Linked DNA regions of Homo sapiens. The protein of the gene in region 7 purifies or fractionates together with the protein of the main gene of each other region. This does not show direct contact. Each region holds a gene or a part of one and is shown on either strand. Other genes may lie near its edges.

What was found.
Region 1: the proteins of EZH1 (region 7) and DHX38 purify together in Homo sapiens (affinity purification with mass spectrometry; one large-scale study listed by BioGRID and IntAct). This does not show direct contact.
Region 2: the proteins of EZH1 (region 7) and SAFB2 purify together in Homo sapiens (affinity purification with mass spectrometry; one large-scale study listed by BioGRID and IntAct). This does not show direct contact.
Region 3: the proteins of EZH1 (region 7) and SCAF11 purify together in Homo sapiens (affinity purification with mass spectrometry; one large-scale study listed by BioGRID and IntAct). This does not show direct contact.
Region 4: the proteins of EZH1 (region 7) and SUGP1 purify together in Homo sapiens (affinity purification with mass spectrometry; one large-scale study listed by BioGRID and IntAct). This does not show direct contact.
Region 5: the proteins of EZH1 (region 7) and RBBP6 purify together in Homo sapiens (affinity purification with mass spectrometry; one large-scale study listed by BioGRID and IntAct). This does not show direct contact.
Region 6: the proteins of EZH1 (region 7) and BRAF purify together in Homo sapiens (pull-down; one large-scale study listed by IntAct). This does not show direct contact.

What each region holds. Positions count from the first base shown.
Region 1 is NC_000016.10:72,107,106-72,111,056, reverse strand, and holds part of DHX38 (pre-mRNA-splicing factor ATP-dependent RNA helicase PRP16), read right to left. Parts: intron 3,718-3,951; coding exon 3,509-3,717; intron 3,413-3,508; coding exon 3,258-3,412; intron 2,831-3,257; coding exon 2,675-2,830; intron 2,585-2,674; coding exon 2,450-2,584; intron 2,258-2,449; coding exon 2,132-2,257; intron 1,643-2,131; coding exon 1,547-1,642; intron 102-1,546; coding exon 1-101. UniProt on the Homo sapiens protein: Probable ATP-binding RNA helicase. Involved in pre-mRNA splicing as component of the spliceosome.
Region 2 is NC_000019.10:5,594,916-5,598,866, forward strand, and holds part of SAFB2 (scaffold attachment factor B2), read right to left. Parts: coding exon 3,878-3,951; intron 583-3,877; coding exon 446-582; intron 1-445. UniProt on the Homo sapiens protein: Binds to scaffold/matrix attachment region (S/MAR) DNA. Can function as an estrogen receptor corepressor and can also inhibit cell proliferation.
Region 3 is NC_000012.12:45,921,196-45,924,618, forward strand, and holds part of SCAF11 (protein SCAF11), read right to left. Parts: intron 1,960-3,423; coding exon 1,741-1,959; intron 1,388-1,740; coding exon 1,268-1,387; intron 1,000-1,267; coding exon 853-999; 3' UTR 1-852. UniProt on the Homo sapiens protein: Plays a role in pre-mRNA alternative splicing by regulating spliceosome assembly.
Region 4 is NC_000019.10:19,310,240-19,314,190, forward strand, and holds part of SUGP1 (SURP and G-patch domain-containing protein 1), read right to left. Parts: intron 1-3,951.
Region 5 is NC_000016.10:24,537,689-24,542,437, reverse strand, and holds the start of RBBP6 (E3 ubiquitin-protein ligase RBBP6), read right to left. Parts: upstream 2,873-4,749; 5' UTR 1,812-2,872; coding exon 1,646-1,811; intron 1-1,645. UniProt on the Homo sapiens protein: E3 ubiquitin-protein ligase which promotes ubiquitination of YBX1, leading to its degradation by the proteasome.
Region 6 is NC_000007.14:140,914,765-140,918,715, forward strand, and holds part of BRAF (serine/threonine-protein kinase B-raf), read right to left. Parts: intron 1-3,951. UniProt on the Homo sapiens protein: Protein kinase involved in the transduction of mitogenic signals from the cell membrane to the nucleus. Phosphorylates MAP2K1, and thereby activates the MAP kinase signal transduction pathway. Phosphorylates PFKFB2.
Region 7 is NC_000017.11:42,710,330-42,714,280, forward strand, and holds part of EZH1 (histone-lysine N-methyltransferase EZH1), read right to left. Parts: intron 3,061-3,951; coding exon 2,880-3,060; intron 2,157-2,879; coding exon 1,960-2,156; intron 1-1,959.

The DNA.
Region 1 (3,951 bases), on a different chromosome or scaffold from region 7:
CGCTTCTCCTGCTCCTGCCGCCGGGCTCGCAGCTGCTCCTCGGCCAGCGCCATCTCCTCCTCCATGGCAGAGGCTTCCTCTTTGGCCCGACGACGGTTCTCCTATTGAAGAGGGACAGACCTGGCTGAGCCTACTGGGGACCACTAAGGAAGGAGGCCTCGTCGGCACCCAAGTCCCTGCCACAAACCAGGTGCTGCATCCACCAGGCCAGTGCTCCACATGGCTGCCTGCCCCAGTACCAAAGCCGCCTTCTCTTCTGCAGCTGAGGCCTGCTTTTTTCACTGACTCAAGACACTGGACAATCAGTCCTAACTCAGTCATCCCTCAGTCCAGGAAGTACTTACATTTCCTTCTTTTTTGAAAAATCAAGTTCACAACTATGCTAGGAAGTACAGAAAAACAGGGAAGATGTGATTACCTGCTGGCTGGAAGAGACAGGCATAAGATGCAAGGGAGCCTGGTATGGGGAGAATTATGCTACGAAAAGGGGTAAGCCAAAGCCCAGCACCATTTTGCAACCCTAAATATGGATCTAGGCAATGGCCATCAACAGACGCTAAAACCTCAAGATGGAGGAGCAGTGGAAACCTATCAGGGAAGAGGCAGGCTGCCACCACTGGGGCCCCTCATCCATCCTCCCATCAGCAAAGGTGGGGCCACCAGACCTCACATGCCTCCTGAAGGCATCTAAGAGGAGGTTCACAGTGCCACATGCAGGCATCTCTGCCACACGCAGCTCAGCCGGGATCTAATTGAGCGGTTGGACTCATCGCCAGCTTACAGCAAGTGCACGAAACACAGGCACAGGTTAAACACCGCTGTGAGCAAGCAATGAGGCAAATACATCATATGGACTATTCGACAGGACAAATGACCTGGCTGCTCCAATAAATCAATGTCATGAAAAAAAGCGTGGGGTGGAGCCTGTTCTAGAATGAAACAGTTAACACACATAAGCAGTTGCAATGCCTGGATCCTAATTCAAGCAAATCGATCATAAGAAGTTATCTTTGAGATAAATGGAGAAATCCAAATGCGGACTGGAGACTTAGGTGACATTAAGTATTCATTTTTTTATGAGTGATAACGGCACAGAGGTTATATTTAAAATTTTAAGTCCTTTTAGTCAGAGACACATACTCAAGTATTTATGGATGAATAATGTATGAGATAAGCTTTAAAATATTCCAGAAAAAAAAAATGGATGTGTGTGGAGTGGGGTAGGAATAGTGAAATTGAACAAACGTTGACAATTATAGAGGCAAGGCAACGAATTCATGGTGGCCTGTTGTACTGTTTTTCCCACTTTCATGAATATTTGGACTTTTCAATAATGAGTTTTTTGGTTTTGTTTTTAAAGGCTCAGCCTACCAAACAACTGGAGTGGGTGGTGGGGAATCAGACAGACCCAGCCTGCTGGATCACAGCCTTTATGTTTGCAGAGAGAAGTAAGTGGGTTGGATGACCGCAAGTCTTCAATACCAAGCGGAGGGAACACCGACCCCACAGGCAAACAGCACCCCTGCGAAGAGCACAGAATCCTCACCTGCCGTGACTTGCCCGCCTGTTTCACGCTATAGAACATGGGGCCCAGCTCCGCCAGCCACTCCCCGTCCACAGCGGTCACACACTGCATATACTCCTGCGGGCAGAAGGGCAGGGAGGCGAGGGTCACAGGAGGGCCAATGTCCCTCCCAGAGTGGTTCCACAATTAGGAGCCACATGGGAAGGGCCCAATCCCTGGCCCTGCAAGGCTGAAAAAAGGAAAGGAAAAACCCCAGATACTCCCATCCAAACTCCTCCACACTTGAGAAAATGCCCCCAGTATCTAAAAGAAAAGGCCCAACCCCTCCGAAAATCCTTCTAATGACACCAAGAGGGGTTGCTCATCCCAAGCAGCAAGTGGGGAACAATCGTGCCCATGCAGCTGAGGTCAATGCAGTCTAGAGGTCAACCCTGTGCAGAGCTTCCCCAAGTCCCCAAATGAAAACCAACCTCACATGCCCCGCAAAACAATGCATGTGGCCTCAAGGCTCCCAGGCTAAAAGCTCATGCCAGAACGCAGTGAAGGGTTTCAAAGCCTGGCCAGACAGGGGGCCTGCATTATGCAAGTGCCTTGGAAAAGACTCACCTTGGTGGTCATGACCAACTCGTGATACACTATGTAATCTGGGGTGTAGCCCATTCCAAAAAGGGAGCTGGTGGGGTGCAAGTGGCAGGGCATCCCTGTGCGGATGTTCACGTACTCCCCGATTCCCTAGGGAGGAGACACAACAGGCAGCCACATCAGGAAAACAACACCCATTTGGGCAGCGACCCCATCCCTTAACACTCTTGACACAGCCTTTGGCGGAAGCCCAGATCTGCAGAACCACACCAGGACAAAGGAAGAACTTTGCCCTTATACAGGTATCAGGCTGGGAGGGGCTCACTGGGCTCCTGGGTTCACCTTGAGCTTGGCTGCTTGGTGGAAATAGGCAGCACAGATGCACTTCCTGACGATGTCCCAGTCAGTGCCACACGAGGCCAGGCTCATCCGCTGCTGCACCATGATGTCCTTGAGTTGAGCTCGCACCTCCCGGACCTAGGGCAGGAGACGGAGGCACCAGGAGGGAGCCCTCCTTTCCTCTCGACCCTCCCCTCATCCCAACATCCTGCTCATCCACCACTCTACCTTCCGCATGGCCTTAGCATGGATGAAATGATCGTTACACCAGATGGTGGAGTAATTATTGTTCTTCCACTGCAGGTAAACATTCAGGTAGGTCAAATGATCGCTCTCAGGAACAGCGAACTTCTCCCGGATTTGATCACTCTCCTCCTCTCGACCCTAGGAAGGGAAAAAGAACCTTCACTCTAAGTACAGGGGGGTCCAGGCCCACTGAGCACATCCCAGAGGTTCTAACACTACCACCTACCCACACATAGAACTTCAAACATGTCAATAGGTTGCCCTGACAATTTGAGAAAAATTAAAATAATTTTTAAAAAGGTCTACTCTAAAACATGAGGGCTCAAGAGCAACCATACTAGAAGATAAAAAATGCTCTTGCAAATTTCCAAAGCATTCCCTGAGAACCACTGGCCCAGCCCTTCCTTTCCCCTACCCCAACCTGCTTAACCGAGAACAGCAAAATCATTCTTCAGAAACTCTGATTCTGCCCTCTGTTCCATTTCAGTAATACAGAGAGAAGCCATTCCCCTCCCCAACACTTCCTCGAGCCCTCCGGGGAGAGGGGAGCCAGCCGCTGCCCCACCTTGGGCCTGTAGAAGATGGCTGGGACCGAGAGCATGGAAACGATGAGCAGGATCTCGGAGCTGCAGCCCATGTCACAGGACACGATGAGCATCTTGGACAGGGCAGGGTCCAGCGGGAACTCCACCATCAGCCGCCCGGTAGAGGTCAGACCACCTAGGAGAGATGAGCAAACCCGGATATTTGACGGGACAGTAGAGGAAAGAAGGAAGTCAAGCGCCAGCACCCATGAGGCTCCCGGGGCCGCCTCACCTGTGTTGTCCAGGGCCCCGAGGATCCAGAGCTGATACATAGAGTTGAGCATGTTGTCCTCCGGGGGCGGGTCCATGAAGTGGAACTGCAGCAGGTCCTGCACCCCGAGGGACTTGAGCAGCAGCACCACGTTGGCCAGGTTAGTCCTCTGGATCTCGGGCACTGTGGTGGTCAGGAGCTCATTCTTGTAGGCGCTCTGGGTGTAGAGCCTGCCGGGGAGAAGACCCCATCTTCTCACCACAAGGAAACCCCACAGCAGCCAGTACAGATGAAATCCCACAGGGAGGGAGGAAATTCTCATTTCTTCTCCCCACCCACTACTTCAGTGAATCACTGACTTCCACCTATTCAAAACTCCAATCTGCCAATTTAGCCCTTCTTCTGGAGCCTCTTACATGTTTCATTTCTTTTTTTTTTAGACAGAGTCTCACTCTGTTGCCCAA
Region 2 (3,951 bases), on a different chromosome or scaffold from region 7:
ACAGCTCACTGCAGCCTTGAGCTTCTGGGCTCCAGCAATCCTCCCACCTCAACCTCCTGAGTAGCTGGGACTACAAGTGCACGCCACCATGCCCAGCTAATTTTTAAATATTTTGTAGAGGTGGGGTCTCGCTACATTGCCTAGGATGGTCTTGAACTCCTGGCTTCAGGGGATCCTCTGGCCCTGGCATCCCAAAGTGCTCGGATTACAGGTGTGAGCCACTGCACCTGGCCCTTTGATGACTTTCATGCCACCTGGCATGTCTGGCGGCTCACGTGTGAACAGGTGCTGGCCCCTGCCTCGAGGACCCAGGTTAAGCACGACACCCGCCAGCCCAGGCACTGGCTCTCGGGCACACAGACTGCGCACTCCAAGTACAGCTGGGAGAAGGACAGCCACCCCGAGAGGAAACCACCAGCCCACAGCCTCACCCAGCTCCACTCACCGCCGCCTCTCCGTTTCGCGGATCTCCCGTTCCCGCTGCCTCTGGCGCTCTCTCTCCCTTTGTTCTTTGATTTTATCAAACGACAAGATGTCTCTCTTTTCTTTGCTTTCTGACTTGCGATCCTGACTCTTGGAGCTCTGTTTACCAAAACTGGTTTATTAATGTCAGGAAAATGATTGCAACAAACAAACAATGGAGATTATGCACGTGTGCATGAGACTAAGATTCTCTGGCCCCACATGGTGTAGATGGAAGGCTGTGGTCTCCAGACCAGAGGCCCAGGCATAGGCTGCTTCCCTCCAAGTTTGCATTTTACTGCCTAATCCAGAATCCTGCTTTCAGATGTCAAGGGGCATTCATGGAAGAGAAGAGGTTGGCCCACGCCTCAGAAAACCTACAGGCACAGTTCTTCTAGCATAGCACAGCCAAGGACTCACATAATCCAAAGCAAACCTAGGCCTCTCAGAGCCACGGGCACATCCGCACAGGGCCACTGTGGCCATTAGTTCAGAGGGGACAGCAGTCAGGCCAGCTGTTTGGACAGCTGGAGGGCAGACTACATGTTTCACATCTCAACTGCTGGCTCAGGACTCAGGCAGACAGCTCTAAATAGAATATGCCAGGCCGGGCGCAGTGGCTCACACCTGTAATCCCAGCATTTCAGGAGGCCAAGGTGGGCGGATCACAACATCAGGAGTTCGAGACCAGCCTGACCAACATGGTGAAACCCCGTCTCAACTAAAAATACAAAAATTAGCTAGGCGTGGTGGCGCATGCCTGTAATCCCAGCTACTTAAGAGGCTGAAGCAGAAGAATCGCTTGAACCTGGGAAGCAGAGGTGGCAGTGAGCTGAGATTGCGCCACTGTACTCCAGCCTGGGTGACAGAGCGGGACTCCGTCTCAAATAAATAAAGAGAATATGCCAAAATGCTTTAATGCAAAACAGTGCTCCTAATAAGGTACAGAACACTAATAGCCAACTTCCGTAATTTATTTTTTGTAGGTTTTTTGGGTTTGAGACCCAGTCTTGTTCTGTTGTCCAGCCTGGAGTACAGTGGCTCAGTCACAGCTCACTGCAGGATCAAGTGATCCTCCCACCTCAGCCTCCTCAGTAGCTGAGACCACAGGTGCACACCACCATGCCTGACTAATTTTTCTATTTTTGTAGAGACAGGGTTTCGCCCTATTGTCCAGGCTGGTCTCAAACTCCTGAGCTCAAGTGATCTGCTGCTTCATCCTCCCAAAGTGCCGGGATTACAGGTGTGAGCCACCGCACCCAGCCTACATTCATCATTTTCTATCTGTGGCATAAAGCTCAGAGCTGTAACAACTGACTCCCATTTCCAAGGTTCTCCAGGGCCCCTCACCCAAACTGGCTACACATCAGACCCTCCCAGGAAGCTTTTAAACAACACAGAACCTGAGGCCTCCTGCTGATCCACACAGAATCTCTGGGGCAGGGGCCTGGGAAATGACATTTTTAAAAAGCTACTCAGTTTATTTCCCTAATTAGCCCCCATAGGAGAGAAAGAGCGAGCAATGAAAAACAAACCAACCCAACAGAAAGACAGGCAAAGGTCAAGATGAGACATTACACCAATTATTAATAAAATGCAGGCTGGGGAGAAAGGGGCACACAGACACAGGAGAGACACACATCACCCAGCACTTTGATGGCAAGCTTTGCCTACGAGACGGGCAGATGTCTTACACACACTGCAGTAGAATAAGGTGACAGATGCCCACATACCACCGCACAGTGGGCAGCACAGCAGGCAACAGTGTCAGCACGGGACTCCTGGGTTCTCAGGCCAGCTTAGCCACTTACTAGCGACCTGGCAGGTGCAACACACCCAGGAGATTTAAGTCCCCTCCACAACCTTTCTGAACAGCACTTTATTTCAAAATTTAAACGTTAAAAGAGGCTGGGAGTGGTGGCGCACACCTCTAATCCAGCAAGTTTGGAAGATCAAGGCGAGAGAATCACTTGAAGCCAGGCTAAGCAACAAAGTGAGACACTCCCACCCTTTATTTTTTTTAATAGGTAAATATCATGCATAAAATAAAAAATATATGTAAAAGCGAAAAGAAAAAAAAGCAAAAAGGAAAAAAGCCAAACCGTATGTGTCTGTATGTAGAGACCTCCAAGGCATATTACACAGAAAGTGCAAGCTCCAGCACATCCTCTGTCTGTGGTCCCATGGCAGGCACAGGGGACGTGTGTGCAGAGGAAGCCGAGGAGCCCAACTGGACACACGGAGGCTTTAGTATGCCCGTGCTGCATCTCCTCAAGCTGACCAGATGTTCTAATCATGCATGTGTCATCACTACTTGTTTTCAACATCACAGTTACATGGGGGTAAGAGTATGGGTCTTTTTCAATGTTCTACTCTACATTTCTCTGTATCTTATGATTTTCATGTGAAAAATGACATTAGGAACTGATACTTTATAAAATCCAAATGTTCATTTTAAAAACTAAGTCTTGGTTGGGCACGGTGGCTCAAGCCTGTAATCCCAGCACTTTGGGAGGCTGAGGCGGGTGGATCACTTGAGGTCAGGAGTTCGAGACCAGCCTGGCCAACGTGGCAAAATCCCGTCTCTACTAAAAGTAAAAAAATTAGCCTGGTGTGGTGATGTGTGCCTGTTGCCTGTAATCCCAGCTACTCGAGAGGCTGAGGCAGGAGTCGCTTGAACCCAGGAGGCAGTGGTTGCAGTGAGCAGAGATCACGCCACTGCACTCCAGCCTGAGTGACACAGCAAGACTCCATCTCAAAAAAAAAAAAAAAAAAAAGTTAAGTCTTAACAACACAAAGTGGTCCTGGCTGAATATGGTGAACTCCACATTCGTTAAAAAAGTACTGTCACCTCATGAATATCTTAGCTAGAACCTGCAGCTGGGAAGCAGAGGTTTTTATTGTTTCCCAGAGTGAAAAACGCAAATGAGACGCTATTTCGTCTAGTTGTGTGCACAACTCGAGAGGTACAGCTCTTGATCTGATAACATGACCAGCTCTCTGTCCTAGGTTGGTCTCTACCTTTTTGGTTAATTTAATAGGAGACTAAAAAACCAATGGAAGAAAGTAGCCTGCTATTAAGTCAACCAAAGAGTAGGACCTGCCTTCCGGCTCGAAAAGCCTGGGTCTGGCCCATCCCACCCTATGGTGAGCTGCCGTGTGAACCAATGCTCTGTCTGAAGGCGGCACATCCCGGTCAGGAGCCAGTAAGGGAAGCAAACACGGATGGGCACTGCTCTGCAGAAAGCACCAGGATTCATGTGTGTGTCTGTATCCGCAATCTACACAATTATCGCGCCTCCTACAAACTTCAATTTTAAAGGCAAAACAGTGCTGTTTTCATAATGCGGATCAAACGGGCCGTGGAGCCATCGTGAGAAACAGCTGGCCCTGAGATGGCAGAGGCAATACTCACTCTCTCTTTGGACCTGCTTGTGGTTTTCACGCTAATGACGGGCTCTCCTTTCGATTTATCCATCACGACCGTCC
Region 3 (3,423 bases), on a different chromosome or scaffold from region 7:
TGGTCTCGAACTCCTGACCTCAGGTGATCCGCCACCTCGGCCTCCCAAAGTGCTGGGATTACAGGCGTGAGCCATCATGCCCGGCCGAAAGTCAACAATTTTTCCAAATCTTTTTCCTCAAAGTCTTCAACAAAGACTTTGAACTGCCAAAGTTGTAATCTAGTAAGTCAAACTGCTTATCTCAATTAGGGGTAAACAAAGGCACAAAAGAAAAACAAGCAGCATAACCTTTATTTGGTCATACAATAGGTGAAGAGTGTCTCAATGTTTTGAACACTAAATTTTACTCGTGATAATTTTTTTTCTATCTAGGCAATTTATTCAGATATGTGCTTTAAAAATACACATTAGGAACTTTGCAACTGATATGTTCTATTTAATATTAGAAACATTTTTCATGGTAATACATTATTTAACTTTCTATAATTAGAGGGAAAAAATCATAAAGATCATACTTTACATTTTAACCTGACAGAATAAATGCATTATATATATCTCTTTGAAAACCAGTGCACTTAGAAGTTTCTAATTTATGCACTCCATTGCCCTAATCAAAAAGCTATACATTTTCCAGTATCCACACTATAACACAGTCCTAGTAAAGATGCACATTCCTTTAAACCCTTTACTTTCCCTTGAATTTTGTGGGGGAGGGTGGAGGGGAAGGAAGGATACAGAAGTTGCAGTGCAGACCTATATTTATTTAGAACAAAACATCATATCCTATGTTAAAAAAATAATTTTATCAAAACCAAATTTCAATCACAGTTATGTATGATTTTCAGTTAATGGTACATGTTGAAATTGCACTTTGCAGATATCCTGATAATGTCCTTGACAGCGTTCCCCATTTCAGCCTATGTTTTTTTCAGTAGACACAGGTTCTTCCAGAGTTTTCTTTTGGCTCCCCTTCCGTGAATATTTGTATTTGTCTACATAGGCTTTAACCAGATTTGCCACTTTAGTAGAATTTACTTCTCCACTCTTACTATGACAAACCTAAGAAAAAAGGGGTGGGGGGTAAACTTTTTTCATGCTTAAAGGGATTAAAGCCAAAATAGAAAGCTTTGTGAAAAACAACCCCAAAGAGATAACCAGACTTATTTTCATGTTTCATTATCTCACACAAACTAATCAAAAGGCAAAAAAGTAGACAGGAATTAGTAGGAGCTAGCTTTTATTATTTTAATTAAACTTCAGCATTCATTTATTAAAACAGAGGTGGTTCAAAACAACGTGCACATACTCCACTAAAGCCATAACTTACTTTATCTACTGCTTTCCGTACAATTTCTTTATATTCTTCCTTGGTGATATCTTTATTTTGGTAAAATGGCTTGATGGCCAATTTTACCTCTTGTGCTGCTTTTTCTTGAATTTGCAATTTCTGATGAGAAGAAAATGTATAATTTATTATTTGCCAGTCATACTGCTCTCACAAAATCCCAAACAAGAAATTGAAAATACTTCATATTTACAATAAGAGACTCTCCAACTATTAACGTGACAAATATAAAACAGTTTATTTACTAAAACATATCAAACATTTCTAAAAACAATTATAAAATATTACCAGTAATTTACTGGACATCAACACATCTAGAGAGAATCCTTCAAATAATAATGGCATTTAGACAGCCAATAAGAAATTCCCTTCACCACTCATACAATAAAAAGCTGATATTTTTTCTCCTTTATCATATACAGAATTATGAAGGTTGCTCTCAACCTTGAACTTGCCTTGTCTGTCTTCGAGCTATCTGCGCTGGCTTCCACTGCAACACTTACTTTGCTTTCTGCCAATTTTACAGCAGCATTAGAGGCTTTGCTGTGACTTGATGACGAAGTATTACCAGAACTTGGTCCCTGAACCATTCCCGTATTTCCTGGGGCTGCTGTCGGAGCAGGCAAAACTGGTGTACTCATGTTATTACTTACATGAGAAGAACTAGGAATACCCTGTTTTAAAGAGTTATCATCAGTTAATGAATTACTTGTACTCGATAGAAGTCTTTTAGTGATGCATTAGAAATAACATTAAAAAACACAAAGCAAACCAACCTTAGTACTAAAGAAAAATGCATATTTCAGGTAATTATATCTAAAGGGCCCTTTAAAGAAAAATGAGTAACATTCTTAAACGGGGCCTTATTTAGATATGTCAAGATGACTTTTAAATTATATATATGTATTGTAACATTTTGACAGCAATACTAAACACAAGGAGGAGAATAGCATTTAAAGAATTATATCTTTCCTGCAAGGATCTTTAGGAATATTAACAAATATTAAAGTGCCCTCACTTTAAAGCCTGGAAAAAATAAGGCAGTAAAGTCAAATGGCTTGTAGTAAGTTGACAGGAGAAAAAAGGCTTGCAGTAAGTTGACAGGAGAAAAAGATTAAGATCCCAAATACTAAAATCCAATTTCCCTATTCCTTCAACTCTATCTTACTGTCAGGATTCTATTTATTTTATTTTATTTTAATTAATTATTTATTTATTTAGAGACGAAGTCTCACTCTGTCTCCCAGGCTGGAGTGCAGTGGCGCGATCTTGGCTCACTGCAATCTCCGACTACCAGGTTCAAGTGATTCTTGAGCCTCAGCCTCCGAGTAGCTGGGATTACAGGAATGCATCACCGCGCCTGGCTAATTTTTGTATTTTTTTTTTTCTAGACAGAGTCTTGCTCTGTCACCCAGGCTGGAGTGCAGTGGTGCAATCTCGGCTCACTGCAACCTCCGCCTCCTGGGTTCAAGCAATTCTCCTGCCTCAACCTCCTTAGTAGCTGGGATTACAGGCGCTTGCCACCACACCCGGCTAATTTTTGTATTTTTAGTAGAGGCAGGGTTTCACCATGTTGGCCAGGCTGATCCTGACCTCGTGATTCACCCACCTGGGCCTCACAAGGTGCTGGGATAACAGGCGTGAGCCACCATGCCCGGCCTAGGATTCTAAAATTTTTAAAAGGCAGTCATAAAATTATAAGCAACAAATTGTTTGCAAATTATTCAAATTTTCTATGTCTCACAGAGGCACTTCTCCTTTCTTTTTAGCATGATAAATTCATGAAAATGAAACACAGATGGTAATGGATAATAAACAGCTTTATCCAGTGTTTGTCTGAACAAGACAATAAAAGCTTCATCACAGTACTTAATCACTAGTTCCCACCGTCCCCATATACCCCCTAAACAGTGCAAAACAGGGGAAAAATGTAAAGCACCCACCACTCGATTCTAATTTGGCTTATAATTTGGTTTACTTAATATGAATAAAAAAATCCTGTTCAGATATAAGTAACAGCATATATGTAGCTTGGATTTGGTAATAAGTATTTAATTAATTTTCTAATTTGGGAGTTGGGGGGTTTTGAGAAGGATAGTGAAAGAGGGATTATGAAGGTTTACCATAACTGAAATCAA
Region 4 (3,951 bases), on a different chromosome or scaffold from region 7:
GAGATGGAGTGAGGGCACCAGAGGACGAGGATGAGGATGAGGCCATCACCTCGTCCATCATGGCCCCTAACTCACCCCAGCACTCTCACCTACTGGGACCCCAAACTGGCCCCCAGAGATTTCAAGAGACTACTGCGAAGTGCGCACAGCAGGCTTCAGTACGGTAAGCTGGGAACAATCTTGTTCTGATAAAAGCAATACTCCATGTATTATCTCTGCCTGAATATTAACCCTCCAGGTCCAAATGGCCCTCCAACAAGATGGCTCCTGCTCTCTCTGCACAGCACCTGTCCTCCCTTGCTAGTTGATTATCTGGGTTGTTACTGACTCATGTCTGTCCTCCTGCTAGACCTTAGAGTTTTCCAAGGCAGGGCCTACATGTCTCTCTCTCTCTGTCTCTCTCCCTCTCTATCTATCTATCCGAAACAGAGTTTTACTCTGTCGCCCAGGCTGGAGTGCAGTGGGGCAATCTTGGCTCACTGCAACCTCCTCCACCCAGGCTCAAGAGATTGTCATGTCTCAGCCTCCTGAGCAGCTGGGATTACAAGCATGTGCCACCACACCTGGCTAATTTTTGTATTTTTGTAGAGATGGGGTTTCGCTATGTTGGCTGGGCTGTTCTCGAACTTCTAACCTCAAGCCATCCTCCCACCTCATCCTCCCAAGGTGTTGGGATTACAGGTGTGAGCCACCACACCTGACCTATTTATTTAAGAGACAGGGTCTTGCTCTGCTGCCCTGGCTAAAGTGCAGAGTGCAATGGTGCGATAACAGGGACTGCAGGCATGTGCCACTCTGCCTGGCTAATTTTTTAATTTTTTTTTTTTTTTTTGGTAGAGGTAACATCTCACTATGTTGCCTAGGCTGGTCTTGAACTCCTGGCCTCAAGCAATGGTCCCACCTCAGCCTCCCAAGTCACTAGGACTAAAGGCATGTGACACTGTTCCTGGCCAATGCCATTTTTTTGACAGGCATGAAGGGCAGCTCTGACAACAGTATATCAGCTGTGCTCAACTTTGATTTAAATATATTTAGGCCCCTGGGTTTGCCTTTGTGCTAACTTGTTAAAAACATATTTTTTAAAAAGTAAAACATATACTTTGCAAAAAAAAAAAAGAGGGAGAGAGTGAAGATAAAATATAAAATGCCCTGTGATTCTTCCAGCAAGATTGCTTTGGCTGTTTTCTTAGAAATGTTTGATGCCCAGGCTGGGCGCGGTGGCTCACGCCTGTAATCCCAGCACTTTGGGAGGCCGAGGTGGGCGGATCACGAGGTCAGGAGATAGAGACCATCCTGGCTAACACAGTGAAACCCCATCTCTACTAAAAATACAAAGAATTAGCCAGATGTGGTAGCAGGCGCCTGTAGTCCCAGCTACCCGGGAGGCTGAGGCAGAAGAATGGCGTGAACCAAGGAGGCAGAGCTTGCAGTGAGCCAAGATTGCGCCACTGCACTCCAGCCTGGGCGACAGAGCGAGACTCTGTCTCAAAAAAAAAAAAAAAAAAAAAAAGAAATGTATGATGCCCAAAGAAATGCTTGCAGATCCCAGCTCTGAGCTGCAGGCCCACATGGGTAAAGAAACACAGGCTTTGGCTAAGCATGGTGGCTCATCCCTGTAATCCCAGCTACTTGGGAGACTGAGGTAGGAGAATCACTTGAGCCCAGGAGTTTGAGGCTGCAGTGACATATGATCATGCCACTGCACGTCTGCCTGGGCAACAGAGTGAGATCATGTTTCTTAAAACAAAAAAAAGTAACAGAGGCTCATTATGGAACAAATGGAAATGTAGAAAAACTGAAATAAGCCTAGGCAATATGGAGAAAACCCCATCTCTACGAACAAAACAAAAAATTAGCTGGGTGTGGTGGCGTGTGCCTATAATTCCAGCATTCCAGAGGATCACCGGAGCCCAGGAGGTCAAGGCGGAAGTGGGCCGCAATCATGCCACTGCACTCTAGCCTGGGTGACAGAGTAAGATCATTTAAAAAAAAATAAAAAGAAAAACTGAAACAGAAAGGAATGGAAAAACCCAACAATGTCTCCCTACTTTGCAACAGCCACTATTAACACTGGTATATATCTTTATTTTGCTCTCTAAATTAGAAGTCAGAGGAAATAAGGCTGTGATCACAGCACACACTCTACTTCTTCCATTTCCTACTGTAGCACACCATCCTGCTCCAATCTCAAATTCCTCACATACGCTGCTTTTTAAACCCGCATGACGTTCCACCATATGGATGTACCCAATGGTGCAAAAAGCTCATGGAGTCCACAGGGCTAGCCTTTTTCCTTTAAATAGGAGAAAGGAATAATTTTTAGTTCATCAGAACTAAAATAACCTAAATACATCAACAAGGGGCACTGGTTAAATAAATTACGGGCCATCCACAGGGAAGATGGGGCAGCCCTGAAAAGTTGAAATTTTAGACAAGCAATCAAATACAATGTTAAAGGAAAAACAAGGCCAGGCGCGGTGGCTCACGCCTGTAATCCCAGCACTTTGGGAGGCCAAGGCGGGTGGATCACGTGGTCAGGAGATCGAGACCATCCTGGCTAAAACAGTGAAACCCCGTCTCTACTAAAAATTAAAAAAAAAATTAGCCGGGCATGGTGGGGGGCACCTGCAGTCCCAGCTACTCAGGAGGCTGAGGCAGGAGAATGGTGTGAACCCAGGAGGCAGAGCCTGCAGTGAGCCGAGATCGTGCCACTGCACTCCAGCCTGGGCAACAGCGCAAGACTCCATCTCAAAAAAAAAATAAATAAATAAAATAAATAAATAAAAAAAAACAAAAGGACAGGCTATAAAACAGTATCTACAGTGTGGTTCTACTTACATCAAAATACATTTGAATTAAAAATTGTTACAAAGGCCGGGTGCGGGACCTCACACCTGTAATCCCAGCACTTCGGTAGGCCAAAGCAGGCGGATCACCTGAGGTCAGGAGTTCAAGACCAGCCTGGCCAACATGATGAAACCCCGTCTCTACTAAAAATACAAAAAATTAGCCGGGCGTGGTAGCGGGCACCTGTAATCCCAGTCACTGGGGAGGCTGAGACAGAAGAATCACTTGAACCCAGGAAGCGAATGTTGCAGTGGGCCAAGATCGCGCCATTGCACTCCAGCCTGGACAACAGAGTTAGACTTCATCTCAAATATAAAAAAAAATTGTTAGACAAACACATCGGGCCAGGAGCAGTGGCTCACACCTGTAAACCTAATGCTTTGGGAGGCCAAGGTAGGAGGATCACTTGAACCCAGAAGTTCAAAACCAACCTGGGCAACATAGTGAGACCCCATCTACACAAAATTTAAAAATTAGCTAGGCATGGCAGTGGACATCTGTAGTCCCAGCTACTCAAGAGGCTGAGGTGGGAAGATAGCTTGAGTCCAGGAATTCCAGACTGCAGTGAGCTATGATAGTGCCACTGTACTGCAGCCTGGGTGACAGAGTGAGATCCTGCCTCTGAAATAAAACAGGCCCGGCACGGTGGCTCAAGGCTGTAATCCCAGCACTTTGGGAGGCAGAGGCGGGTAGGTCACCTGTGGCCAGGAGTTCAAGACTAGCCTGGTCAACATAGTGAAACCCTGTCTCAACTAAAATACAAAAAAATGGCCGGGCTCAGAGACTTATGCCTGTAATCCTAGCACTTAGGGAGGCCGAGGTGGGAGGAACAACCTGAGGCCAGGAGTTAAAGACCAGCCTGGCCAACATGATGAAACCCCATCTCTACTAAAATACAAAAATTAGCCGGGCACGATGGTGGGTTCCTGTAATCCCAGCTACTCGGGAGGCTGAGCAGGAGAATCACTTGAGCCCAAGAGGCGGAGGTCGCAGTGAGCCAAGATCACACCACTGCACTCCAGCCTGGGCGGCTGAGTGAGACTCTGTCTCAAAAAATAAAATAAATAAATAAATAAATAAATAAATAAATAGCCGGGCATCGTG
Region 5 (4,749 bases), on a different chromosome or scaffold from region 7:
TCGAAAAGATGGATAACGCCTAGCCCTAATGATTCGATTGTGTAATACTCCAGTAAAATATGAAACCTGAATATATGACGATTAAAATTGCCTTAATATCCTTTAATTCCATTCATATTGTCTCTCCTCTCATTCATAAATACTCAATATGTCAAGATGGCCCAAACTTCTTATAAACCCATCTGTTCTGTGAAATGTGACTGTTGTAGTTAAGGGATGCTTGTGAGGCACTTAAATAAAGCTATTTCTCAACTGTTCATGACCACCACCAGTTTTTCCTCTCCTTAGGCAGAGGATTACACATAGCTCCAATTATCAAAGGGTATGACACTTGTTTTTAAAAGGTGGGGAAGCAGACAGTATTTTCACATAATATCATTTGAGCAAATAAATTCTTCCTTAATATTTTTGAGTCATGATATGCCAGCACTGCTGTTCCTTAACCTAATACAATTATACTTAGGTCTGCATTGTAAATGGAAAACTGGTCTTCTACATGACAAGATTTACTCTACCTAAACTACAGGCTGGAGGTGGGGGACCTCCCATTTCAACTAAAAGAATCCATGTCACACCTTAAGTGTGATAAAAATTTAGTGACTAAAAAAATACCCTAACCTAATTGTAACTTCACTTCTTCTCATTCCATCAGTAACTTTTAGAACACCGAACTGCTAAAAAATACACATCAGCATTACTGATCTGAGAAAAAGAAACCAAAACAAGTTCAGAGTCAGGAAAGACTGCTTGTCACATTTATCTACTGTTAAGTTCCCAATATTATCAAAATACTTTTGAAAAGGAGAAAGAATCTAACGATTCTTATCAGTGGCTTATTTGTACTCTATGGTAGCAGCCTATTTTTCAGTACCTTAGTATCAACAGTCACGTAAAATCTAGCAACTACTACTTTAAAAAAAATCAGTACTTTTGATCTTCACCGAATTGATAAAGCTTAAGAGTAATGTGATGAACTAACAGTTTAACTACTTAATTGCCGTATTACTAATTCTGGAATTGACACACAAGACAAGAGCGGTGACATCAGAACATTTCAAGATCCAAAAACAATTCCAATACTGATTAAATCCTCAAAAATATTAAAGTTCAGATCCCTTATCCACAACACAGGCAAGCAACTCCAAATAAATAAATGCGAGGAGGGAGGAAGGCAGGACATAAAATTTGCCATCAAACTCCACAATGTTGTTAGGTTAGAAAATTGTTTTTTTGGTTTTTTTTTTGTTTTTTTTTTTGCTGATTGAACAAACAAGCTTTGCACAGGCTCTCCTGCCCTCCTGATGGAAAATAAGTTAGAAAACGCCCTAAGACAAGCACTCAAAGAGTCTAGATAGCTATCCCCCTCTCCTCCCTCCCTCATTTTAAAAAACAGCGAGAAGAATAATCAGGCTTCCACGTTTTGGGTTAGCCTGTTACAGATGACCCAAGTATGCAGAAATAAAATAAACCAGTGAAACTCCAAGGCCAACTGCTGCAAACCTTGGCTATCAATGAAAGTTGTATCCAAAGTACTAGAACGAACAGTCCCCACTAGAGACATAATGGCGGTTAGCTTCCTGCCAGGCACCTTCTAGCTAGTATCTCTCTCCAGCCACCAAATATCTTAAGACCAAGCGGCCCTTACCTTCTTTCGTCTGCGCATTGGTGATCTGCAGGTCGCAGTCGGCAGCTTTCAGCTTCTCTCTCCCCATAATCTGCTTCTTTAAGTCGCAGAGGGAGATGTGGAGCCCATCAAAGGTGACGGTATCATAGTTGAGTTTAGAGGAAAATTTATAATGCACACAGGACATGGTGCCAAGGGATTCCTAAGGTTCAGCGAGGAGACGTGGACACTCTCAATATACGTATATTTATAAACTTTAAGAGCAAAATATGTACACACAAAACACTCAAAGACACCGAAGGACCCTAAGGCCTCAGATTAAATACCCCCCAACCACAAGCAGGGGTTCGTCAGAACAATAATCCAGAGACCCCCCGATACTCAGAATCACTTCATGGGGGAGGAGGAGGACGAGGACGGGGAAGAGGGGAAATCGAGAATCCGCCAACGGGCACAATGTCACCCGGCTGGGTCCCCCTCGCTCATGCTAAGGGGCCGGCAGAGACGGGGGGATTGGCGGTGCAGTCAGTAGCGGTCAGTCCACACGTTAAGAGTCCGAGCGACCCCACGGGGTCAGGGGTCCATAGCGCGGCCGCACCTCCCGGCGGGTCTCTCTCTCCGTGGATTGGGGTGACCCAGGCCCCGGGAGAAGGTTGAGGGGAGAGGGCCTAGGCCCGGAGTCCACGAGCGGCCTCACGCCTCCTCCTGGCTTCCGGACGACCGGCGTCAGCTTCCCCAGGCCCAGGCCCAGGCCCCCACCGCACACAAACCCCTGGCGCCTGCTCCCCGGAGGCCACGAGCGGCCCCACGGCCTAGGCCGAAAACGCGCGGTCGGCGGAGGAGAGGCCTTCCCGCAGGCCGCCCCCGGCTCCGCCTCCCCCCGCCGCCGCCGCCGCCTCGGACACAAAGCCGGCGCTAGGCCTCGGCGAGGCCTCGGAGCACTTCCTCACCACCCCGGGCCCCAGCCGGCGGCCGGGTGGCTTCGGCGGACCCCGGGGACACCGCCGAGGCTCCCTGACGCTTCTTCTCGCCGGATCCTCCGCGCTTCGCTCGCCTTTCGTTTCCGTCGCCTTGAGGCCCGGAACCGCGAGAACACGCCCGCAAGCTGCTGGGCAGCGGCTAGGGCTTCTCCGGCTCCCTTTTTGTGTTGGCCCCCTGCCGCTCGGGGGCTCTCACCGAGCGGCGGCGACACCTCCAAGCCAGGTACTATGGCGGACGCGGCCTGGCTTCGGACGAGCGCCCCACTGCGGGGTCTCTTAAGCAGGGATTGCACGGGCGGCGCGCGCGAGGCGGGGCTGGCGTGCGCGGATAGGCGGGCCGAGAGGCGGGGCGGCTGACGTCACAAAGCGCACGGCCCGCCCACGTGACCCCGCGCTTTGTGACTCCAAAGCGCGGAAACTGAAAGAGCAGGGACAACGGGAAGAACCATCTGCTTCAAAAGGGAGGGGGGTTGCGCGTCAGGAGGACCGGCTCACAGGGAGGCTCGGTGGGGAGAGCTCGCCTTGCAGGGGCTGCGTGCAGTTTCCACTGCAAAGTGGCTTGCCTAGGGGTGGCCGGCTAACTCCCCCTTCCCCACAGGCCCCGTCAGCTCCTCTAAGCCTCCCAATTTAAGTGAGCATTATGGTTGCTACGCAGAAAACTATGGTTGCTATGCAAGCGCTCCCTAGCTGCTGCTTCCAATAAACTGGCTACCCTATACTCTTGACAAGTGGAAATCGTGGAGCAGCCGCTGCCAAGAACTGATAACAGCCACCAGCACCATACAGATTTATTGAGCTCTTACTATGTGCTAGGCACAGGGCTGATCGCATAACAACATTGCCAGGCTCAGCAGCCACGTTGTCTGGGTTGGATCCCTGGCTGTGGGGGCTCTAGATTTAACCCCTCTGTGCCTGGGTCTCCTTGGCTGTAAAATGCCATTAAAAATAGTACTTGGTTTACTTGGATTAAATAAATGCACATAAATCCATAGTCTAAGACCATGCCGGTGCATTGACGTGGCTCAATGCACCGAAATATTAATAGCTGTAGCTCAATAAATGTCAATTTAACAACAAAAACCCTACGTGGTCAACATGACATTATTTCCGATTTATAGATGATGGAACTGAAGCTAGCAATCATGTACTTTCTGAATTTGCAGAAGGGGATGCCTGCTCAGTGGCAGGGTCCCGATTCCATTCCTAAGCGCAAATGCCAGGAACAGTGACAAGAACCCCCTCAGTAGATTGGAATTTTTTTTTTCCTTTGGGCATGGGGACGTTATTACATTCAGAAAAAATCATAATATAATAAAATTACATTCATAAACGATAGTTATTATCGTTTACAATCCATGTTCCTCATCCTCTCTGAATTTTACAGGCTAGGCTCAGTGAATTTAGGCAACTGAGAATAAGATCCTATAGCCGAGAAGTAGCAGAGTTTCCCAGGGACTTCCTGCAAGCACACTCCAAATTCTTACTGAACTTGATTTAAAATTAATCACCATCCTGCCAGAAAAGCCTTCCTAAGGCCATCTTTTTAAAATAAGATGGCGATCTTTCTCTATCCCTTTAGTCTTTTCTTCCTAGCACTTGCAGATAGTTGACAGTTACACATTTACTTTTTAATTATCTATCTCCCCCAACCCCTACCTTCGGCTGACAATAGGAATCTTATCTTTATATTTGTTTTTGCTGTATCCTCAGCTCTTAGAACATAGTAGGTGCTCAATAAATACGTGCTGAATAACTGGATACATTTTTACGTGATCCATAGAGATGTCGTGGCAATAAAATTTTGGCCGTAGTCAAGGGCAGCTCTAGAGATACCATTACAATTTAACTCAACCACACACATCAGTACTTTTCATATATAACAAGTTTCTTCCACTTTTACCTCTTTGTTATTTCACCAAAAACTTATTGCTGCCAGGTCCTCTTCAGGTTGGTTGCTTTTTTCTTAAAAGCCTCTGTGTGAATGAAAGGGCGAGGGCTATCTCTAGTGAAAGAAAAACTCGACGAGAAAATTGCAAGCCGTCATGGAATTCACTCCGAAGCGGTGAATCTGTTCCTTTTGCCCGTCTGTGGCCGACCCCTTTATATACTGAATGCCTAATTTAATCAGCGTGGTGCATCATGGGA
Region 6 (3,951 bases), on a different chromosome or scaffold from region 7:
CACGGTGGCTCATGCCTGTAATCCCAGCACTTTGGGAGGCTGAGGCGGACGGATCATGAGGTCAGGAGATCGAGACCATCCTAGCTAACATGGTGAAATCCCATCTCTACCAAAAATACAAAAAAATTAGCCGGGCATGGTGGCATGCGCCTGTAGTGCCAGCTACTCTGGAGGCTGAGGCAGGAGAATCACTTGAACCCGGGGGGGGGGGGGGGCGGAGGTTGCAATGAGCCGAGATCACACCACTGCACTCCAGCATGGATGATAGAGCGAGACTCCGTCTCCAAAAAAAAAAAAAAAAAAAAACCATACCTACTTAAGACTTAATTACAATTTTATGGCTGACACCAATAATCCCCTTTAATATTAAAAATACATCTATAAGCCAAAATAGAAATTTATTTTGCAAAATAAATGGTACAAGGTAAAAAATACAGTTTAAAAATATCAAGTCAATTGAGAAACAACCCCAAGCAGTACATTAAACTGTTTAAAATATGCCAAAATAAGTGACTAATTCAAAGTATCCTAACATTTTATTTCAATTAAGCAGTTCTAAAACTATAAAGTAAAAATTTTCTGGTGTTATTAACTTAAAGGTTACATATTTAGTGCAAGAAAAAATATAAAACAAAAGTATTCCCCAACTTAAATATAATTAAAGTATCTTTTTTTTTTTTTTTGACACGGAGTTTCCCTCACTCTTGTTGCCCAGGCTGGAGTGCAATGGCGCAATATCGGCTCACTGCAACCTCCGCCTCCCAGGTTCAAGCAATTCTCCTGCCTCAGCCTCCCAAGTAGCTGGGATTACAGACATGCGCCACCATGCCCGGCTAATTTTTTGCATTTTTAGTAGAGACGGAGTGTCTCCATGTTGGTCAGGTTGGTCTCGAACTCCTGACCTCAGGTGATCCACCCATCCTGGCCTCCCAAAGTGCTGGGATTACAGGCATGAGCCACCGTGACCAGCCTAATTAAAGTATCTTTTAAAGATATCCACACTTCTTTACTTTTTAAAAACAGATTAATTTTGGAACAATAGTTAAAAATAGTCTGCCAAGATATTGTATTACTCTCTCCCTGGAAGTGTAGTTTCAAAATCGGCAAGGTGATGCTGGGTGCGGTGGCTCATGCCTGTAATCCCAGCACTCTGGGAAGGACTGCTTGAGCCCAGGATTTCGAGACTAGCCTGAGCAACACAGCATCTCTACCAAAACAAACAAACAAACAAACAAAAAAAACCCAAGGATTTTTTTTAAAAACTCTGCAAGGTGACCCAACAAAACTGGAACGATACTCCTTGCAACATGGTCAAAACTTAGTCAGTTTCTACCTTCGCAATTGTCACCTGACCCTCTACTAGTCAGGTATTCCACACTTCCTCTCTAGAAACATGTGTTTCCTGTTATTTTGTTTTTAAATTATTAAATGAAAATCATGATGAGAAACATCATTTTACACTGTAGGGATAATTCCCTGGGCTAACCAGTAAAAAGCTATCAGTGCAGTTTAAAACAAAGTAAAGGGGCCCTATAGGCCCCACTGAAAAAGGTAGAAATATGACCAACTACTACCATATGCCTTTCCTTAGAAGAAACATAATGATTTAATGATGCCCCTAAGATTCATAAAGATACTAACTCTGAAATATCACAGAACATGACATAGGTTTCAAATGGAAGAACTCTTCTAATGAAGATGGAGAATAACACATTGTAAACTAGTATCTTTCACAACCTAATTGACACTTTCGGTGACTTTTTTTGGTGAATAAACATCTTAACATATTCATTTTCCCCTATACACATTTTGATTACACCTCATAATGCAACACGGTAAAAAGGACGTGATTGACTTTTCTGTGCAACCTACTAAAATATGTCCTTTCTTATAAGGAAATTAATTTTGGTTGCAACTTTTACCTGTCACTTTTCATGAACCTCACCACCACATAATTCAAGACAGAGATATATTAACTATATACTGAAGTCTTAAGTATTTGGGGGTAGAAGACACCTTTGAAAACCTGAATAAAATTATGAGTCTTCTCCTTCCAAAAGTATGGTAACAAGAAATTAAAAAGTCAAAGTTCTAAAAATCTTCTCAACTGGACCTACCTGATTTTAAATTTAACTATAAAGCTATCATAACTAAGGTAGTGGGGTATTAGCCTAAGAAAACACACACAGATCAATAAAACAGTAGAATCCAAAACTCACAAACATAAGCAATTGATTTCAATAAAAGTGCCAAGGTGATTCAAAAGAAATTTGATAAATGTGAAACAACTGGACATCCATATGTAAAATAATGAATGAACCTTAACCACTGCTTCACAATTGCTGGAGTGCAATGACGCGATCTCGGCTCACTACAACCTCCCTCTCCCGGGTTCAAGTGTTTCTCCTGCCTCAGCCTCCCAGGTAGCTGGGATTGCAGGTGCCCACCACCATGCTCGGCTAATTTTTGTATTTTTAGTAGAGAGGGGGTTTCACCATGTTGGCCAGGCCAGTCTCAAACTCCTGACCTCAGGTGATCTGCCCTCCTCAGCCTCCCAAAGTGCTGAAATTACAGGTGTGAGCCACCATGCCCGGCCCCACTGATATGACTTTTATATGACTCCATTTATATGACTTTCTGGAAAGGGCACAGAGATCAGACCAGTGTTTGCCAGGGGCTGAGGGTAGAAGATGAAACTGAGTGCAAAGAGGAACTAGGAGCTGGGCTTGGTGCATGCCTGTAGTCCTAGCTACTTGGGAGGCTGAGGCTGGAAGATTGCTTGAGCCCAGAGTTCAAGTCCAGCCTGGGCAATACAGTGAAACTCCACCTCTCTCTCCCTCTCAAATAAATCAATCTAGTTTTTACAAAAGCAATTATGAACTTTCTATAGACCTCTAACCTACATCTTACTTTGAGAACCTCAAATATAACATATATAGTCTCCCTTAGACCAGGAGTCAGAACAGTTCAGCCCATGAACTGGCCCACTATCTGCTTTTGTATAGCTCACAAGCTAAGAATACTTTTTACATGTTTAAGTGGTAGAAAAAAAATCAAAAGAAGATTTTCATGACACATGAAAATGATATGAAATTCAAATTTCAGTGTCCTGAAAATGACTACTGGAACAGAGTCAAACTCATTTGTTTAAATATTGTCTATTAGCTACTTCTGAGCTACTACAGTATTGTTGAGGAATTGTGAGAGGAACTGTATGTCCCACAATGCCTAAAATATTTGCCATCTGACCCTTAAGATTGCTGACCTCTGCCTTAAGACACAAGTTGTTGAAATTTTCTACACAGATGATACCTGAGAAGATTTATGCCAGCACAAACCTCTCTTCCATACATAGTAGCTCTAAAATTTTTACAGCCATAAAACCCTTTTTTCAAGGAAACTAACATGTAAAGCAGATAAATGAAGAACTTCAATAGTTATGGTATAGGGCAGCACTCCCCAACCTTTTTGGGACCAGTGACCAATTTCATGGAAGACAATTTTTCCATGGACAGGGGTAGAGGGGGTTTCAGGATGAAATTGTTCCACCTCAGATCATCAGGCATTAGATTCTCACAAGAAGCACACAATCTAGATCCCTCACATGCACAGTTTCTGATAGGGTTCACGCTCCTGCCGCTGATCTGACAGGAGGTGGAGCTTTGGCGGTAATGCTCACTTGCCTGCCACTCACCTCCTGCGGTGTAGTCAGGTTCCTAACAGGTCACGGACTGGTAGATACGAGGCTGTGGCCCAGGGGTTGGGGGCCCCTGGTATAGAGGCACTAAACAGAGCCCTGGGGTAACCTCTGAAGAAGGTCCTTGAAACCCCAAAACAGTGTTTTTCAAACTGCCTGTTGCAGCCAATTTGGCTGTCAATTTCATAAGGTGATTTTGTGACCGGCAGAAAAAAAGAATAGAATGTTACAGAAAATCAGATCACCTCATATCC
Region 7 (3,951 bases):
AGTGGGCTAAATATTAGCTCCCTCTGTCAGTATAAAGATACCGGAGCCTCAGCCATTTCAATAGGATGTGTTTTTTCTCTTAAAGCACTGGTTTTTAGTTTTTCCTTTTCTTTGTTGGGGCTATTGGCCCTTTGTGGGGGATCTTTGAAAACTGTAACTATTCTCAGGAAAATACAGACAAGAACATTCTTGCATACAAATCCATAGATGGTTACGTTGAGAACCTGTGATCAGGGAAATAGGTATGAGCTCCAAAATGAAAGCAAAGGGCACTTCAGCTCATGGTTCTGTTTTTGTTTGTTTTTTTTTTTTTTTTTTAAGAGAGAGGGTCTCATACTCTTGGCCAGGCTGGAGTGCAGTGGTGCCATCATAGCTCAATGTAGTATAGAACTCCTGGGCTCAAGCCATCTTCCCACCTCAGCCTCCTGAGTACTAGGACTACAGGTACGTGGCTTTTTTTTTTTTTTTTTTTTTGTAGAAATGGGGTCTCACTTTGTTGCCCACACTGGTCCTGAAATCCTGGCTTCAAGCGATCCTCCCACCATGGCTTCCCAAAGCACTGGAATTCTAGGTGTGAGCCACCTTGCCCAGTCCATGGTTCTATTAATTGTTCTCAGTACAGGAAGCATGAAGAAGAGGCCACAGAGTCTCCTCCAGAAGGTAGGAAGCCAAAGCATTGGGGTTCCTTTCCTGTTGGACATGCTGGCCCTGACAGCTGCCTCCTTGTCCCTGTTCTTCAGTCTGTCTTCTCACTGTGGTCTTTTCCTGTCTTTTCCTGGGCCAATCACTTGAGGTCAGGAGTTTGAGACCAGCCTGGCCAACATGGTGAAACCCCATCTCTACTAAAAAAAAATACAAAAATGGCCAGGCACATTGGCTCATGCCTGTAATCCCAGCACTTTGGGAGGCCGAGGCGGGTGGATCACCTGAGGTCAGGAGTTTGAGACCAGCCTGGCCAACATGGTGAAACCCCGTCTCTATTACAAATACAAAATTAGCCGGGCGTGGTGGTGCACACCTGTAATCCCAGCTACTTGGGAGGCTGTGGCAGAAGAATCACTTGAACCTGGGAGGCGGAGGCTGCAGTGAGCTGAGATCATGCCACTGCACTCCAGCCTGGGCAACAGACCGAGACTCCATCTCAAAAAAACAAAACAAAAAAAATTAGCTGGGTGTGGTGGTGGGCACCTGTAATCCCAGTTGCTTGGGAGGATGAGGCAGAAGAATCACTTGAACTTGGGAGGCGGAGGTTGCAGTGAACCAAGATTATGCCACTGCACCACTCCAGCCTGGGCAACAGAGCGAGATTCTGTCTCAAAAAAAAAAAAAAATTAGCTGGGCATACTGGCCTGCACCTGTAGTCCCTTGCTACTTGCTTGGCTGAGGGGAGAGGACTGCTTGAGCCCAGGAGGCGGAGGTTGCAGTGAGCTATGATCATGCCACTGCACTCCAGCCTGGGCGACACAGTGAAACCCTGTCTCAAAGACAAAATAAAGATAATCTAGTGATAGAAAATGTGGAGAATAAAATGACTGAAGAGGCTGGCGGAGTGGTGGAGGGAGCAGCAGCTGCAGCAGCTGCAGCAGCAGCAGCAGTGTGCTCATTAACAAGAGCCACAGAAAGACCTGGGAGTCCCTTCTGGGAAAGGGGTACACATTTAGAAAGGAGGCCAGAGCCAAAAAAAAGAAGCGAAAGAGTGTAGGACCCAGAAGCATTAAATAGAGTCCAGACAGAAATGAGCATTCAGCAAGGAGGAGGCGGGTCCCCAAACATCATTAGGCCTGGCACTTGCAGAAGGGCCATGTTTGGGAAACTCACAGAAGCACAGGCTCATCAGGGACTGAACTTAAGACAACTTCTCTCCAGACCCAGACACACAGCCTGGTAAGATGGCAAAGGGCTGGACAGAGCAATGCGTGAAAGGAGGGGCCCATTTGTTCTGCTGCTTCCAGATGGTACCTGCTTGCACGTCTTGGTCCCCAGAAGCCTGGCTATTGAACAGAAGTTGTTGAAGTAGGTGCCATGGAAGACTCGAAAAAGAGATTCTTCAGCCCCAGTCCATTCCACAGGCTCCGAGGGTGCTTCCACTACGCAGAGTTGAGGTGGGGCTGGACTAGCCTTCTGTTTTGTGGGAGTCTGACAGCGAGAGTTAGCCTCTGAGAAGGGAAGAAATAACAGAATCAGAAGAAGGTAGAATGCAGTTGTCATCAGTAGTTTGTCACAAACTCAGAAGTACTTCATTCTACTTTAAAAGGTAGAACAGTTAGGAATGAAAATATTCCCTATCTTTAGGCCAGGCATGGTGGCTCACGCCTGTAATCCCTGCATTTTGGGAGGCCGAGGTGGGTGGATTGCTTGAGCTCAGGAGTTCAAGACCAGCCTGGGCAACATGGCGAAACCCTGTCTCTACTAAAAATACAAAAATTAGCCAGGCAGGGTGGCTCACGCCTGTAATCCCAGCACTTTAGGACGCCGAGGCAGGCGGATCACCTGAGGTCAGAAGTTCAAGACCAGCCTGGCCAACATGGCGAAACCCCGTCTCTACTAAAAATATAAAAATTAGCCGGGCGTGGTGGCAGGCACCTGTAATCCCAGCTACTTGGGAGGCTGAGGCAGGAGAATCGCTTGAACCTGGGAGGTGGAGGTTGCAGTGAGCCAAGATAGCACCACTGCACTCCAGCCTGGGCAAAAAAGCGAGAGACTGTTTCAAAAAAAAAAAAAAAAAAAAAGAAAATATTCCCCATCTTTACTGTTTACAAAACTTGTAGAAAGAATTTATAATTTTTAAGAGGTAGTAAAGTTAAGTGTCAGGCAGTGATCCTGGGTTTACCAGAGTCCTTGCATGGAAAGAAAAAGTCTTCATTTTCTGTTCATCGTACCTGAAGAACTGGAGGCCCAGTCATTGCCTGTGTCCCTGTCACTGTCTCCTTCTTTAGTCTCAGCCACAGCAGAGGCTGAGGCATTGGAGCAGGAAGCACTGACTATGTGGTGCCTTCTCCGGCGACGACCAGAGCACTTGGAGCGGGGGTTGTGGAGCATGGCATACTCCTTTGCTCCTTCCTGCAGTGGACACATTACAGACAGGAAATAGGAACAGGCCCATCACCATATTGATCTCATCATCACAAACTTTCATCTTTACAACATCTGTCTACAATAATAGTGTCTTTTCTTTTTCTCTGTACCATATAATAAGTATGATCATATAACAATGAGAGCTGCTTAACAAAACTTACGTACTTTTTCACAAAAGAGTTGTCCTATAATGTTTTTTTGTTTGTTTGTTTTTTTGAGACAGGGTCTCTCTCTCTTGCCCAGGATGGAGTGCAGAGGCCTGCTCACTGCAGCCTCGAATTCCTGGGCTCAAGTGATTCCCTTGCCTCAGCCTCCCAAGTAGCTAGGACCACACGCACATGTCACCATGCCCAGCTAATGTCCTATAATCTTAAAAAAGATATAATCTATGCATCTGTGTCTTCAATTTTCCAGTGAGTTGTATCTAAAATTAACTTGCGTGTTACTTGTTTGGAATTTGAGAACACATTCTCCTATGGATGAAGAAATGAGATTCAGAGAGGGGAAGAAACTAGCTTGAGAGTATGCAGCTAATAGTTCCAGAGGGGTATAGGAATCAGGGCTCCTTGTCTCCCTAGGCCACTATTCTTTCCAGTCTACCACACTTTCTCTGTTTCCTTAATAAAATGTGTAATGCTTAATCTGTACAATCTTACTACTTAATTTTGAAACTTCCTCCCAAATCTGTGTATGAAACTCAGAAGAATATTGTTTCATTATTTTACAGCTATCACCCCCTTTTTTAAAAAATGAAATAATTATCACTCACCTAGATCATCAATATTTTCTCATCAGACTTGGTTTTCAAAGACTTCCTAGCTGTTTCTGAAAACTAAATCTATTTCTACAAAATAAAGGTTTATCTTCCAGTGACAT